Homo sapiens: one gene and its partner. The protein of the gene in region 2 purifies or fractionates together with the protein of the main gene of each other region. This does not show direct contact. Each region holds a gene or a part of one and is shown on either strand. Other genes may lie near its edges.

Region 1 (3,828 bases), on a different chromosome or scaffold from region 2:
TTAAGTGATTTGAGTTTCCACCCAACTTTAACATTCTATGACTTTATGAAAATACGCACATCAAGCTGTTTGCTCAATATAAAATTACACTTTAAAAAGAGATCTTTACTTATGGGCCACTCATTACAAATATGGGAAAAACTGTGATGCTTGAGGGAATTCTTATAACAAGTGAAGTAAGAAAAGACATTTGATGTGTGAAATATCCAGTGGCTATTTTGGCTGGATAATACTGGAGAGGCAAATCTCAAACACTCCTCTCCTAGCTATTCCTATTAGAAGTCTAATACCAGAATATCAGAAAAAGGGATTGGAATCAATTGGAACAAAAACTAGTAAAAATGGTGAGACAACCCCAAATGAAAAGGTAGCAGCCAGTTTTCATCTCTTTTTAGAATAACATAAACGAAGGTGACTCAGATTGCAATCGAAGAGGTTGAGCTCAGACTTCAGGGAGAACTTCCGACTACTGAGACACTCGAGGAGTTTGGGGAAATTCCCTTCTCTGAAGCTTTTTAACAAGAGACCAAGTGGCCAACAATGCATCTTCGGTTAGGTGGTTCTCAGGGACAGAGGCATGGACAGAATGACCTTTCAGAGGTCCCTTCTTGCCTGTGCTCACTCTATCTTGTTACTAAGCCAGTTCACAACAGCACCACCTGCTTGCTTCTCACACACAGAGGCTGCTTTCAGTTACCTTGGCTGTTCACATATTTTCAGGCTGCCCATTTTCCCCCTGCTGGCAGAGTAGACTCCAAGGTGTAAGGACTGTTTTTACAGATTTTTGCATGTTCCACACTGGTATGTGATAATCACTTCACATTGCAGTTAGCAAAGAGGAGGAAATGAAACCCACTCCTGAATTGGAGACAGGAGTGTTGTGTTTCACTGTCTTTGACAGCCAAAAGCCAATTTAGGACTCTGAAAAGCCAAATTAGCCAGGCAAAAAAAAAAAAAAAAAAATTGGGTATCTTCTTAATTCTCCTGAGCTCACTTAAGGACTGAAATCAGTGTTTGCGGAGGGAGGAAAAAGTCACATGGACTATGGTTTTATGGATCATTTCAGCTACAGAAATGAGAAAGTGGGAGAATACTTTCAGTTTGCACTTTTTTGGCAAGACTCCTAAAAGCTAGCAGGATAATAATCATAAACGCTTATTGAGAACTCACCATGTATAAGGCAATGTTCTAATTCCTTTGCATAAATTAACCCTTTTCATCTTCACAACAATCTTAAAAGGCCCAGAGACATTAAGCAACTTGCTCAATGTAGCAACACATCTACTAGGTCCAGAACTGGATTGAAAACCAGGAAGTCTGTCTCCATAGCCTACTAGTTAGTGTACACACTCTGCAGAAACAGACATAGATGAAGACCATCCTCAGAGAACTATGCCTGGTTCCTCCTCTTCCTCAATTCCCTAACCCCTGTAATAATGGGACCACATTCTTCAGCTGAAAGTAACTTCCTGAGGAGAAAGATCTATTAGCCAAAACCACCAAGATACACCATGCAAGAAGTCAGCTCAGTTATCCCCATAACTCACTGCAACCCCTAATCTCATTGTCACATTGTAGGATTTTTTCCAACCTGTAATTATTCCCTCTCCCTGGGCCAGCAAGTCAACAGAACATTCAAAAAAAAAAAAAAAAAAAAAAAAAATATATATATATATATCAGTTTCCAAAGTGACTCTTTGCTAAAACTGTTTCCCAACTCCTGGGGGCTCTCCTTTGAGGTGATAAAACCCTAATCAGGGAGTCATCGCCATAAATAATGCATCATGCATCAGACTTTCACCAAGTATCAGTAAAGCAAGCAGTAGCTCAGGAGGGTCCATTATCCCCCATGGTTCATAATTGGGCATTGTGATTAATCCATTTATCTGCTATTCAGATGAGCACTCCATAGTAAGAGTCGATAATTACTGAATATTGAATAAGTACATGAATAACCAAAATGTACCCATGATTTGACTGGCTTCAGCACCTTGATTCCCAGAATATTTACCCATTTTGAGTTTCAAAGGTTCACAGCAACTAAGTACAGCAGACAGGTGGGGTGGGAGATAGGAATCCCAATTTCCAGGAAGCCATGAGTGACTAAAGCCCATTAGGCTCAAGAGTTTGTTCACAATCACATACATCAATTCAGTCAACATTTATTAACATTTATTACTTATTGTGTGTCAGGCCCACAAATTCAAAAAAAAGTGCATTATCTAATAGACATATAAATAGACACACAAAAAGCCAATTATCTTGCAATAGGAAAAGTGAGAGACAGGCGTTAGGAACACATAAGAAAGGGTAATGCCCCTCCCTGGGGAGAGAGGATAAATGGCAGATCTGGGAAGCCTGCCCAGAGGAGGTAACGTTTGAGCTGGGTCTTGCAGGTTGAAAAAGATTGTTTTCCAGAGAGAAGAAGGAGGAAAGACCGGCACAGGCAGAGGGAAGAGTATGCACAGAAGCATTCACATATGCAGTCGGAGGTCTTTTCCAAGAATTGCATGATGCAGGTATTGATGGGCTTTGCACACCATGCTAAGGAAACTGGGCTTTATCTAGCGTCCTGTAGGCAATAGGACAGCATCCTAAGTTTTTAAAGAGATGCCTGATCATGAGCAGATTTGTGCTTCAGAAAGCTGATCCAGTACAGTAGGATTATGAGGCTTGATTAGAGAAGAGGACAAACAGTTCAGAGGAAAGTGCCTTAGTGAGGGCAGAGGTGAGATGATGTGTCTTGGGCACTGACAATGGGCTGAAGAGGAGAGTGGGACTGGAGGCTTTGCAAATGTTCCAGAAGGCCACAGAGGAGGTTTCTCATGACACCTAGGGAACAGGGGAGAGGGAGAAGAGGCTGGCAGAATGGTGATTCCCTTAGCCGAGGAAGAGAAGCATAGCTGAGTGATCAGGAGAAAGCGTACATGGAACTAACACTATTGCGTGTTTGCCATGTGCCAGGGGCTGTCCTGGCATTTCCTTATACCCATACCTGCCCTATTCCATGAGGAGAATCAGCTCAAGTTAACAGAGAAGGGAACTGAGGTCAGAGCGGTTGAAGAGTGCCCCCAGGGCCACCCATTGCCAACAGTGTCCAGCAAGCACGTGATGTTGATGCTCTCGTACCCTAGCTGGGTACTTCGCTTTGTGGAGGGAGGCTTTGGTCAAAATGTAAGTAGTTTTATTCTTCACTTGCTCCCTTCCTGCCCAATGGTTAGAGTATCTCTCCGTAGCTTTAGCTTTTGAACGAACACTTTCTCCCATCCTTGCCCACCTCCATCACTGCATCTCTCCCTTCCAAAGTATTCCTCTCTGCCCACTCCTCATCTACTCCCATTCACACATGGCATCTTGTTAGAAATAGCAAGGGCAGGGCAAACAGCAATGAATCAGAAGTGGGGGCAGTCTGTGTTTCAGGGCTGACTTAACCCACCAGAAGACTTTCAGCAATTGCTTGACCTCAGCCTCGGTGTCCTCAACTATAAAATGGGTATAAGAAATGAATACTAATCTTTGCTTATCTCACAGGATTGTTGTGAGGATGGAATGAGATAAACAACAAAAAGCAGGAAAAGGTGGCTACAGGATTATCCATCATAGTTGTCCATGAGACTGTGAGCCCCTCCAGAGGAGGGACCAGGTGGTCCTCATGTTTGGAACTTGGGTACCTAGCTTTCCTGGTACAGAGCCGGTGCTTGACAAAGAGGTGTGGAATTCAGAACTAGGACCACTACCACGCTCCCCACCACCCACTGACACACGTGGAGGCGTGCTCCTGCCGCTCTCATCTACCATAAATGCAGGCAAGTCCACAACACCCCACTT
Region 2 (3,828 bases):
AGGTTTTTGTTTAAATGTCATCTTGTATAAAAGCCTCTCCCTTATCACCACATATAAAAATGAGTCACTGCCACCCTCCATCCCAAAACTTTCTAATATTTTTACCTTCCCATATGTTTTTATTCATAGCACTTATCATTATTGGTATCATTCATTGTTTACTTCCTGATTATTCTTCCCAAGAGAGTATAAATTGTTAGAGATTAGGAACTTTGATTTATTCACTGCTGTTATCTCCCGTGCCTGAAATTATATTCAGCACATAGTTGAAAGGTATTCAAAAAATTTGTTAAAATAATACATTAATGACATATATATATGTGTGTATGCTTTCCTTACTGATGTAACCTACTTTCTATAGTTCACCATTCAAGTGTTTTTCATTATTATTATGTTCTGCACAGTTTTGTCATTAGTCACAGTCTAGTGTTTAATCCTTATATTTTCTCTCTCTTCTTTAGGCATGGAATGCAACTTGCAAAAACTGGCTGGCAGCAGAGGCTGCCCTGGAAAAGTACTACCTTTCCATTTTTTATGGGATTGAGTTCGTTGTGGGAGTCCTTGGAAATACCATTGTTGTTTACGGCTACATCTTCTCTCTGAAGAACTGGAACAGCAGTAATATTTATCTCTTTAACCTCTCTGTCTCTGACTTAGCTTTTCTGTGCACCCTCCCCATGCTGATAAGGAGTTATGCCAATGGAAACTGGATATATGGAGACGTGCTCTGCATAAGCAACCGATATGTGCTTCATGCCAACCTCTATACCAGCATTCTCTTTCTCACTTTTATCAGCATAGATCGATACTTGATAATTAAGTATCCTTTCCGAGAACACCTTCTGCAAAAGAAAGAGTTTGCTATTTTAATCTCCTTGGCCATTTGGGTTTTAGTAACCTTAGAGTTACTACCCATACTTCCCCTTATAAATCCTGTTATAACTGACAATGGCACCACCTGTAATGATTTTGCAAGTTCTGGAGACCCCAACTACAACCTCATTTACAGCATGTGTCTAACACTGTTGGGGTTCCTTATTCCTCTTTTTGTGATGTGTTTCTTTTATTACAAGATTGCTCTCTTCCTAAAGCAGAGGAATAGGCAGGTTGCTACTGCTCTGCCCCTTGAAAAGCCTCTCAACTTGGTCATCATGGCAGTGGTAATCTTCTCTGTGCTTTTTACACCCTATCACGTCATGCGGAATGTGAGGATCGCTTCACGCCTGGGGAGTTGGAAGCAGTATCAGTGCACTCAGGTCGTCATCAACTCCTTTTACATTGTGACACGGCCTTTGGCCTTTCTGAACAGTGTCATCAACCCTGTCTTCTATTTTCTTTTGGGAGATCACTTCAGGGACATGCTGATGAATCAACTGAGACACAACTTCAAATCCCTTACATCCTTTAGCAGATGGGCTCATGAACTCCTACTTTCATTCAGAGAAAAGTGAGGGGCTTGTGAAACAGATTGTTCTACAGATGAATCTGTAAGCCAGTTACAGTTTGCCTTAACTCATAGACATCAATCAGAGAGTGTCACAGATTTAACCTTGATCTAAAGACAAGTTGTACCCAGAGTATGTGAAAAGAATGGGACGACAAGAATGTACTGGTTTCTTCCTCTAAGAATTGAAAGGAGTTGAACTGCCTTATGTTTGGGCATGTAACTCCAAAATACTAGGTAGTATAAGGCTTTCTCAATCAGTGCAAAAATGGAAGATATATAAAGCAACAAGTTGTCTGCATTTGATCACTGGTCAGATTGTAAAAAAAAAAAAAATTGTTTTGGCAACATTCTCTATGTTATTCTTATTCACATGATCCTAGAACTTTATGTGAGAACTGAATAGCAGAAGATATATTATTAAATAGTTTTTGGAAGTTGTGCTGTTAAGCAAATGTAAAGTCAACAGTAACAATGATTAAGAAAGGAATATAATGAGTTCAAAGATATCTATCTGATATATTTTTTATATTCATCATGAATCGGGGTAGTCTTGTAATTTATCTAACCTTTTTGTTGTATGGGTTTATAGTGGAAAGAATCTTAATTTAAATAAAAAGAACCTGAAGAGATAATTCAACAAAAGTAGAGAATATGTTTGAGCTTGTCAGAGAATTTAAGTATCAAAATACTAGAGAGATACACCAAGGATATTTGAATAAAAAAAAAATTTGTAGAACACAAAATGCCTATCAGGAAACCCAAAGCAAAACAGAACAAAAAGTGAATACATCGTTTTAAATGATGATTTTGCCATCTGGTATTTTATTATCATAATTTGACCACCAGTGCATGAAAATATATTAAAGTTCATTAGCCTTCTGCTCTTGATTTAATAGTGAACTTTAAAATATATTAATATCATAAACCAGCAAATAAGGAGAAATAAACTGATAATACTAGATTCATTGGGATAGTTTTCCCTTTTGGAGGGAAAGTCACAATTTTTCTCCATGATCCCCCATTTTTTGTAAACACTGGAATAATTTACAAGGATAACTTTATTGTAGCGAGAGCAAATCACATCTGGAGTGAGCCTTGTTTTCATGCAACATTACCATAAGACCATTGGAGTAAATGTTTCAAACAAAATGTACTTCATGAAATTATAGAACATAAAAATATTTATGTGCATATTAACCTGTATTATCCCAGGAGGGTTAATGAGGCCCCATTTCCTGCACAAAACAAATGTAGGGGAAAAAATGGGTGCTGCATTAGCTTTTTAAAGTCAAACAACTATCACATAATAATTCCTTGATATGCAACATAAAGTACCTATGGCCACATATCTAAGTTCCTTTCCTTGATGTCATTAGCTATAAGGAGTGAGTAATGTGAAGGACAAAATAAGCATTATGAATACAGAGACATAAAATTCCACTGTCCCTTCCTTTTCTGAAATACTCTGGGAGGTATTCTGATATTTTTAAATCCCCCAATTTTCCCAGTTGATATCTCTAGACTTCAAGCAACTGAAATATTATAAAAATGCATTAGTCACAAAAGATTTATTTTCTTACATCACACCAGGCTTTAAGATATTTTCTGCCATGCCTTGCCTTTAGTATCAATATTTTAAAAATTTCACTGTAATTTTATAACTGCCTAATAACAAACTGAAAACAGAACTTCTGAGTTTCCTTATCAGAAAGGGCCACAGAAAAGGCCTTAAGAAAGAAAGATTCACTTACTTCTGCAAACTTGGCAATCCGTAATTTAACTTTAATTTGTATTTTATGCATGAATTTTACTTGTAAAGACAAAATTAAATTTGCTTCCCCTACATCCCAACTCCAAGAAGTCACAGGAATAGACTCTTTCTAATAGTGCAGTGAAATATTTTTTCAAACCATAAACTCACATATATATATATATATATATATATATATATATATATATATGTACCTTGTAAACAAGAGGTTAAGAAATTTTATAGCACATTTTAAAATTATTTTCTTCCTCAAATCTATCATGTGGTAACTTAATCTTTAACAGACTTTAGGGCCCTAAACTAAAATTATAAGAGCTATTTCATTTGCTTGTTGTACTGGGTAATTGTAAGAATCACAAACAATAAATCATGAAAATCCTTTCTGGGTTTGTGGTTTCTAAAGGAAATAATATTGAGCTTTTGTATTTTGTCTTTTAATTGGCTCCCTGGTATCTTCAGAATGATGTCTAGATTCTTCAGTCTGGACCCACCTACTCTTCTCACATTATCTCCCATCACTGTTGTCACAAACCATACCCTATAGCTAAAGATTGCTACTTTAGTTTATTACATTCAGAACTTTCTTCACTTTGTTCACCTGTTGCCCATC

Evidence for each region.
Region 1: the proteins of SUCNR1 (region 2) and PRMT8 purify together in Homo sapiens (affinity purification with mass spectrometry; one large-scale study listed by BioGRID and IntAct). This does not show direct contact.

The regions. Positions count from the first base shown.
Region 1 is NC_000012.12:3,494,050-3,497,877, reverse strand, and holds part of PRMT8 (protein arginine N-methyltransferase 8), read right to left. Parts: intron 1-3,828. UniProt on the Homo sapiens protein: S-adenosyl-L-methionine-dependent and membrane-associated arginine methyltransferase that can both catalyze the formation of omega-N monomethylarginine (MMA) and asymmetrical dimethylarginine (aDMA) in proteins such as NIFK, myelin basic protein, histone H4, H2A and H2A/H2B dimer.
Region 2 is NC_000003.12:151,880,098-151,883,925, forward strand, and holds part of SUCNR1 (succinate receptor 1), read left to right. Parts: intron 1-461; coding exon 462-1,451; 3' UTR 1,452-3,828. UniProt on the Homo sapiens protein: G protein-coupled receptor for succinate able to mediate signaling through Gq/GNAQ or Gi/GNAI second messengers depending on the cell type and the processes regulated.